Regions from separate parts of the Homo sapiens genome. Here region 2 is linked to region 1. The links come from fine-mapping of genetic effects on gene expression. A gene starts in region 1. The other region holds a variant in brackets. All regions are shown on one strand. Distances are between the middles of the regions. Region 1 holds the start of MYO7B (myosin VIIB). Region 2 overlaps LIMS2 (LIM zinc finger domain containing 2).

Evidence for each region. PIP is the estimated chance that this variant, and not a neighbour inherited with it, causes the effect.
Region 2: its variant is fine-mapped to the expression of MYO7B in atrial appendage (GTEx, PIP 0.98).

What each region holds. Positions count from the first base shown.
Region 1 is chr2:127,533,243-127,537,626 of GRCh38, forward strand. MYO7B (myosin VIIB) reads left to right here and starts at 2,441. Exons shown (of 48, transcript NM_001393586.1): 1 at 2,441-2,589. RefSeq lists an enhancer at 2,473-3,323.
Region 2 is chr2:127,641,264-127,645,647 of GRCh38, forward strand. LIMS2 (LIM zinc finger domain containing 2) reads right to left here. Exons shown (of 10, transcript NM_001161403.3): 5 at 1,660-1,809; 6 at 786-936. Among named protein-coding and RNA genes, the nearest start is that of GPR17, 2.7 kb to the right of the region's middle. The variant A/G (reference allele first, on the strand shown) is at 2,154.

The sequences.
Region 1 (4,384 bases):
ACAGATTTTCTGTCCCAATATTTTCTTACATGAGGGCAGTAGAAAAGGTCCGAAGAGGACTCAGTCTCAGCCCCAGAGCAAGGGGTTCACCATCTCTGGGAGCTGCCAGGAGCAGCAGCGTCAGCCCTAGAGGAGCTAAATGGTATCTTTCTAAACCCGAGAAACCATGTGCAGCATGAAGCTCAAAAAGGCTGAGTGTGGACCCAGAAACCGAACCAAATTTTAGGGAGCAGGAGGCTAGTCAGAGCAAGGGCAGAACTTGGGGGGCTGTTCTAGGGGGAACAGGCGGGACAGGGGGCCGCCTGAAAGACTCGGAACATGCAGCTCCCTCCAAGTGGTCCTTCAAGGGATCTCCCAGCTTGGTTCCCTGTCTTTGGGATGGGCCATTTGGTTTTAAGATACAGAAACTCCTTCAAGCCATGTCAACAAAGAGAACATTTAATAGACGGAAACTGGGGACTCCATGGAGCCCACCCACAGGAGGCACAGGAAACCCTGAGGCATCGGGGGTCTCCTCCTGTCTCTGGAGCCACTGGGTCTCCACCTCTGCAGCTTGTCCACCTCTCCTTTTCTCTCCCACCACCGCTTGGTCTGTGTCCCCACGAAAGGTCCATGTTCAGGGTTGCCACCCTGCCTTGACCTCAGTTCTAAAAGACGATGGCTCATTCCCACATTTCTGCCTGCAGTTCCCAAGTCCCTCCAAGTCCAAGGAAAAGAAAGGAATCTGATTGGCTCTAGTTGGGCCAACTGTAAGGATGACCAGACCCCTTTTTTACCCAACACAAGGCCTGTGGCTGACCAGGTAACTACCTGCCCCTATTATCCACCCGCCTTCAAAGCCTTGCATAAATGAGCTCCCCTCGCCCTCCTGCTCACTTCCAGGGACTGCCTGGCCCCTCCAGTCTGACCCCACCCAGGGCCCACTGCGGTTGCACTTCCCTTCTAAACAGTCTGTATTTGCCTTAAGCCCAAATCCCCCTTGATCAAGTGCCAGCCCAAGCCTGCCCAATTTGTTGCCAGGTACCCTCCTGGGAACCTTGTTGTCTGATGGCCTTTGTCTCTAAGGCTTCCTGATGGCCCCAGACATGTCCCAGGTGTATGCTCCTTTCACACTCAACACAGAACACTCTCTTGACCAGGTGTCCAAGCAGTTCTCCAGCAGACTCCGTCTGGATGTCCTATAATTCAATTCAATCAGACACTGTCAACCTGGAGTCATAGATCCCACAGGTTAAGGGCTCAGTCCCACAAAACTGCCCCACTTCAAATGCAGTCTCAAGTCCTAGGTTGCCACCTATACTTCTGACCAATTGGCTATAAATCGGGGTTCCCATGCCCCACACCTGAGGTTGGATTTGCTAGCATAGCTCATGGAACTCAGGACGGCACTCATATTGACCAGTTCGTGGGAAAAGATTTTACAAAGGATTACAGATGAGCAGCCGAATAAACACGCACAGGTGAGTTGTGTGGGAAGGTCATGGAGCTTCCATGCCCTCTCCCGCATGCCACCCCCCAGGGACCTCAGATGTGTGGAAGCTTGTCAAATCTTGTTCAAGAGTTTTACCTTCCCAGAGGTCAGTAGGCGGGGCTGAAAGTTCCAACCCTCTATTCACTAGGTCTTTCTGGTGACTGACCCCATGCTGAGGCTAGGTAGGGCCCCCACATGGTCACCTCCTCAGCATAACTTCAGGTGTTATCAAACGGACTCATTATGAGATGATCACTTGGGAAATTTTTTGTTTGTTTGTTTGTTTGAGACGGAGTCTCGCTCTGTCACCCAGGCTGGAGTGCAGTGGCCCGATCTTGGCTCACTGCAAGCTCCACCTCCCCGGTTCACGCCATTCTCCTTCCTCAACCTCCAGCTGGGACTACAGGCGCCCGCCACCACGCCCAGCTAATTTTTTTGTGTGTGTGTTTTTAGTAGAGATGGGGTTTCACCGTGTTAGCCAGGATGGTCTTGATCTCCTGACCTTGTGATCCGCCTGCCTCGGCCTCCCAAAATGCTGGGATTACAGGCGTGAGCCACCATGCCCGACGATCACTTTGGAAATTCTAAGGGTTTTAGGAGTTCTGTGACACCAACCGGGAACAAGGACCAAATATACTGTATTTTATATTATACTACCACCCTCAATTAGAGCTTGGGGTGCTTGGGGGCAGAGCTCCTGCCATGCAGCACCTGGGAAGATGCTGAGCCCCCGGATGGTCAGCTGACTGTCACCATGGGATCTGGCTGGTGGCCAGAGCAGGTGCACAGACTGCAAACCCTGGTGGCCTCCGGGCAGCATGCATCGCTGCTCTGCAGAAGGGGCCTGGGTTAAAGAGCAGGTATCATGAGGCTCTGCCAGCTGGGGCTGAGGGAGGCGTGTGGGAGTGGAAGTGCCTGGAGCCCAGGGACAAAGTCCTGTAATAAATTACGTGGGCCCAGAGTGCTCCCAGTCATTTCCTCTTGGAGCCCTACCTCTTCTTCCTCTGTCCCTTACTCCCTGACACACCCGGAGTCCCAACATTGCCTCCTTTCCTGGCTCTTTCAGGGTGCCCAGGGTGGAGGGGAAGGGGAGTCAGCCAGACCCCCATCCTGACAAGGTAAGGGCGTGCCGGGGGCGTGTCTGCCAGCGGGGAGTAGGGGGTCACCTCTCTGAAGAGGGTCGCTGGGCAGGAGGCAGGTCCCCTGGAAATAAGATGGAACAGGTCTGAGGGATAGAGAGTGGAGAAGCCCTTCAGGAGCCTGGAAACCAGAAACCGCAGCAGGGGACTCAGTCCATCGGGCTGAAGGGCAGCACCTGGGGGGCTGAGGAGGAGGAGGAGGGGGAGAAGCTGTCTAGCCCTCTGCTGTAGAAGGGCAAACTCCCTGCAGGAGGGGAACGGCAGGTGCCAAGGCTGCTCCCACCCTGAAGCCTCCTCACAGCTAGAGGGCCTCACTGTGGAATCATGGGACATCATGGATAGCCTGGGTCCCATGATGAGCCCCTGCCAGATGTCAGCTGTGCCGTGTGTGACATCCCACTGCGTCCTCGCAACACAGTGGTGGAATTGCCTCCATTTTATGGACACAGAGACTGAGGACCATGGAAGCGAAGGTGCCCACGGGAAGAAGCAGAGCCGGATTCGACTCCAAAGCCCAGGCTTATCCGCCTTACCCATGTACCTTGGGCAATTGGCTTTAGTCACCTCTGGAAGGCTGGGACCCTAGGGAGAGGCAGGACAGGTCTGGGGTGTGGTGGGGGGGGGGGTGGGGGAAGAGGTGGCTGAGGAGAGGGACCGCACCGGGGCTCACATGGGCTGTCCCCCTTGAGCTGTCCAGGTGGTGTGTGTCCCATCCCCATTTCACAGAGGACGAAACTTGAGACACAGAGATTGTGAGAGCTGGCCCAGGTCAGACAGCTGGTGGGTGTGGGGCCCCCAACCCAGATCCCCCAAATTCTCCATGACGAGGCCTCCCCTTCAGGCTCCACTTTGTAACCCTGGACTTGAATTTTGCTCTAATTTATCAGAACCCTGCACTTTGTTTAGGATTTTAGTTCAGAGATTCACACACACCCTCAGTGAATCATTGTTAGGAACCACTCAGCTCATCAGCCCACCCCATCTCCCTGGACCTGCTGGGGGCCCTACGTCTGTCCTCAGATGCCACCTCTAAGAGAATCCTCCCCAGGCGGCTGTCTTGGGGCCTGCTGCATCCACAGCTCTAGCACGGGGCTCTGTGGAGAGGCGGCACCACAGGGATGACCTATATGTGTTGATATTGCTTCCTGTTTTACATATGTCAAAAGACAAAATTATAAAAAATTTATCTTAAAGATCTTAATTGGCTTTTATTTGCAATTCTAGAATTGGGCAACACCCCACTTATAGAATACAATGAATGATCTGATGAGCCGAGCAGAGGAGTTTGGCTTTATAGACAGAATGGGGCTGAGAGAAACAGAAAACAAAAGGGGATTAGTCATTTCAATTTATTTTCCTTGTAAAGGATAGAGCTGAGGGAACTTCCTTATCATGCCCGCTGAAACTGGCCTGTCTGGGGCTCCAGCTATTGTCTCTCTCCTGATTCTTGGAAGGTCAGATAACCTTCGTTTGGGCCTGGTGGTGTGGAACTTCAGCATGAGTGACTCCATTTTGGTCTGGTCTGTTGGCCTTGTGTAGGAGCTCAGACAAAACCAATGGCCTCCATACATTTTACTTAACACATGTATTTAAATGATGTTTGTGTGCCCATTCTTGGTCCACATACCAAGCTGTTCAGGGAGGAAGAGCCAGAATCTTAGCACATTTTTCACAGAAGAGATGAAGAAGGGTAAAGGAGACTGGGCATGGTGGTGGCTCATGCCTGTAATCCCAGCACTTTGGGAGGCCGAGGTGGGAGGATTGCTTGAGCCCA
Region 2 (4,384 bases), 110 kb after region 1:
GTGAGTCACCATCCCCTCCCAGTCTGGCCTCCCCCTCGGCAGCCTCAGCCCCAGGAGTCAGGTGCCAGCCTGGTGCTGCGGCATGGTGGGCCCTCATAGGCAGAGGCGGCCCTGCCTGTCCACGTGGGGCCTCCTGCAGGCACCCCCTGCAAGCCTGGGATCACTGAGCAGCACCTTGCATTCCCCCAGGGATCTGCATGTGAGGATGAGGGCTGGGGGCTGGGGCCTGCATCAGGGCAGGACCGCATGGCCTCCCACCCAAGCCGCCACCCAAGGCACAGCTTCCGGACACAGCGCTGGCCAGGTCATCAGGGGAGGTGGTGGGCTCACTGTTCCCAGTGTACCCATGAGAACATGAGAGCCCACCACCCGGTGGGGGCACTCCAGGTGACCCAGTGCTCACACCTGAGGAACTCTTCAGCTCCGTGTCTGCACAGGGCTGTCCATGCAGCGGGTTCTGTCATCCACAACCCCCAGGCACTCTGGACAGACTGCCCCCAAGGTTTTCTCCTGACCTTGGAGTCTCTTAGAATGCCAGCAGGGGGAAGAGGAGAGGTGGGCACAGCTACCCAACCGTGTGTGTGCACTCGGGTCTCCTGGCTCCCGTGGGCAGGCTGGGGTCCCTGGCTGAGCACAGGGAGGGGCAGTACCCCTGAGGAAGGGCCTCGTTGGGAGCCAGCCACCCGCCCTGGGCTGGGAGTGTGGAGGAGCTTTAGGGCTCTTACCATGACCCTGAGCTGGGGCACCCCCCAACCTGAGGCCACGTGTCCACCAGCCTGGCTCACCTCCACGTGCCACTGCTTGCCCAGCGCGTTGACCACTCGGCCCTCGATGGGCCGGCGGCAGGCCCCGCAGATGGGGACGCCCATCTTGTCATGGCAGGGCAGGCAGTAGAGCTCACCCTTCAGCTCGCGGGCCTCGGCTGTCAGCTCCTTCCTGGAAGACAGCGTGCAGCCCCCAGGTGCCACCCCTGCCCTTCTGCAGGGTCATGCCAGCAGCGCCTCCACCCCAGGGCACGGCTCCCCGAGGGGCCCATTCTGTCCCTGCAGAGCCGAGGCGGCAGCGCCTTCTGATCTCTGGGCACTTTGAAGACTTCCTGTGCCCCAGACAGGCCCTGGAGCACAGACTTCCTGCACAGCCCAGAAGAGTGGGCTGTGTTCTGCACCCAGGCCTCTGAGAAGCAGGTCTGTTCTTGGGCCCCCCTCCTCCTCCAAACCAGAGGGGGTGTCTGGATAGGCACGGAGAGGACTGGAGGGGACGGTGGGGGTGGGCGAGGACGGGGGCTGAGGGGCTGCCTATGCAACTCCTCTCTCCAACACCAGCACCAAGCCCACTCCCGGTCTCTTGCCCTGCCCCCTCAGGTCCCTTCCACTGCTCCATCTCAACCCTCGTCTGCAGTCTAGGGGTCCAGCCCACCCGCCTCCTGAGTCTCAAGTGCCCCCCAAACAGAGCCCTGGAGAGAGAAGCTTCCTGCCATGGCTGCTTCCCAGCCCCCAGCCCACCTCTGCCCTGCAGCCTTGCTCTCGGGACCCCTCTGTCTGCCCACCCTGCTCCCCTCTCCCTCCTCAACACTTCCCCAGGTGGAGGCCCCACCGCCCTTACCCTGGGCCAGCCCTGGCTCCCCGCCCCCACAACTGCAGGGCCGGGCTGCGCACCTACCCACAGTGGGTGCAGTTGAAGTGGTCAGGGTGGTAGGCGTCGCTCCTGAACATGAGGGGCTGCTCGTCGATGACCAGGTGGCACCGCTGGCAGATGTACTTGCCCAGGCCCTTGGCCTTCTCACGGTTGTGGCAAGGCCGGCAGAGATGCCTGCGGGAGGCGGGGGCATTAGGGGCAGAGCCCCCACTCCCACACAGCCTGGCCACCTCCAGGAGAAGAGAGGCCAGACCCCTGCAACTTCACTGAGCAGCTGGGGGCTTCAAAGGGGCTCAGCCCAGGGTATGGGAAAGCAGACTGCCCTGTCACAAGGCCCAGAAGGTCACAAGTGTGTCCTGGGAATGGGACGCATGCTCAGCAGGAAAGATGCCAGAATGCTCGAGGTTACTGTCTCTGGATGGTATTTTCCTCTTTCTACTTTCTCTAAGCCTGGGGCATGCTGCAGAATACAGTAGACATTTAATTGATATCTGCTGAAAGCATTATTTTCCCAATGT[A/G]TTTAACACACACGAGTTATAATGAGTGTCACTGTGCCCAGCAGAGTGGCCAGTGAGTGTCCCGGGAGGCCCACTCACCCCCTTCCTTCGGGGTTTGCCAGATGAAGAAGGGCCCAAACACGTACAGGCGATTTCTGTCTCCAAAGACAAGCACTGCTATGTCAGATGGAGGCCCCCAAACCCAGGAACTGTCACTACAGAGTCTTTTTGTGAAGACCTCAGAATAATTTCTGATGCTACTCGCTGTGTTGGACGACAGCTGTGTTCTCAACGGAGAGACAAATCAACATGGTTTCTGTTTCCTTGGACCTCAAAGGTGGCAGGAATCTAGATTCAGAGTCCCCAGGCAAAGATACACAAAGGCCCCAATCCAACCTCCCTGGCCCCCGTCTCCACCTGCCACCCGAATCTCTCTCTGGTGCTCCTGCTGCATCCAGGCCTCCCTTCCCAGGCCCCCCAGCCCCAGGGGCCCTCTCCACTCCTCACGAGCCTCCACGGCTGCCCGACGCCCAGTGTTGGCCCCTCTGACAGGCTGGTCAGGGAGGATACGGAAGAGATCCAATCGCAGACCCAAGATCCCCACCCAGGTTATGGTGGGCAGACCCCAGATGCCAGGGCCACCCATTCAGCATCCCTCCCTGGACCCCAGGACCTGCTACTGCTGGGTGTCTGGACTCCATCCTGCACAGCACTGTGCTCCATCTGCCCTGGGGTGTCTCATCATCAGCTGTGTGCAGGGCAAGGGGCCCAAACAAAGGCCCAGCAGTCACTGGCTAAGCTGCCGACTGGCTCTCTGTGCCTCCCCAAGACCCTATGTGCCCAGCAGGGGGCAACAGCTCAGGGTCAGCTGACCGAATGCCTCGGTGAATGAATGACTCTACAAGAGAGGAAGGGAGCCTCGGTGGGCATCATCTCCCCTCGACTACTGGCCAGAGCCCTGGCTCTTACACCCCAGCGACGGGAAGCAGTTGTGGCCTGTGGCTTCAGTCTTCATCACCACAATCCCTGAAGCCCACCCTTGCCCAGACACCTGTGCCCCAGCCCCAACCCCAGGCCACCTCCTCAGCAGGTCTGGGGCTGAGCTGCCCCACCTGGCGCCTATGGCGGCCAGCCCATGCCCCCTGCGGTGCCTCTGTCCCAGACTCAGCATGTAGGCCCCATGACCCCACTCCACATTCTGGTGACTCCTCCTGAGCGTCAGGACAACACTCAACCCACGAGGAATTATTTCTGTCTCAAAGATGCAGGAATCAGCTCAACGCCTCAAAACTCCATCACCACGGTCAATGCCCTTGAAGCCATCGACAGTGATCACCCCAATAACAGAAGGTCTGTGAGCCCAGAAATGCCCTGCTCAGGGTGGTTAGCTTCAAGCCACCACCTTTCCAACCAGCCTGGGCCAGTTCTTCCAGACAGCCGCCTGCGGGCACAACAGGAAAGAGACCTGCGCCCCGGCTCAGACACCTCACACCCAGCTGGCTCTCAGGCCAGACAAACTGGGAAGCCCATCTCTCTTGAAGGAAGTCCAGATGGGAAACAGCTTCTCAACAGACCAGATCACAGCATCAGATCTAAAGGTGGCCTTCAGAATTCTTTTTCAGGTTGAATTAGGATCAAATCTAAGAATTCTAAATTCAAAATGCAGCAGAAAAACAAAACACACACACACACGGAGCCTAAGTTCTGGAGTGACATGTGCTTGGGTTCAAATCCTGGCTCTGTTGCTTCCTACTGTTTGTTGATGGGTGAGTTTCTTCATTTGCCTGAGCCTCAGTTTCCTTGTCTGTAAAATGGGGCAATAATCCCAGCTGCACAGGGTGATGTGAAGAGACAAATTTAAGACACTGCCCCTTAAATGCTAGCCACATACATACAGTTTTCAATGTTTAAACAACAAAATGTAAAGTCTTTTGAAACCAGGAAGGGTGATTTGGTTTCCCATGTTGCTGGATGTATCATTTTCAGAAAGACAGAGAGAAATGAACTTTGTTCACTCAGTCTCAGAGGCGGCCGCCGGCAGCATTCAAAGGCACCCCAGCCCGGAGCCACCCCAGGGAGGAGCCCCAGGCCAGCGGTCAGATTCATGGGCTTCCGTGCAGAAGGGGAGCTGCACCGGCGAGCACCCGGCCTCTGAGCTGAGCCGCATCCTCACGGACAGGACAGCGCCCCATTATGAGGCTCCTGCAGCTGTTCCTCGCTCCAGATAAAGGCCATGATTTATTCTGTGTGCC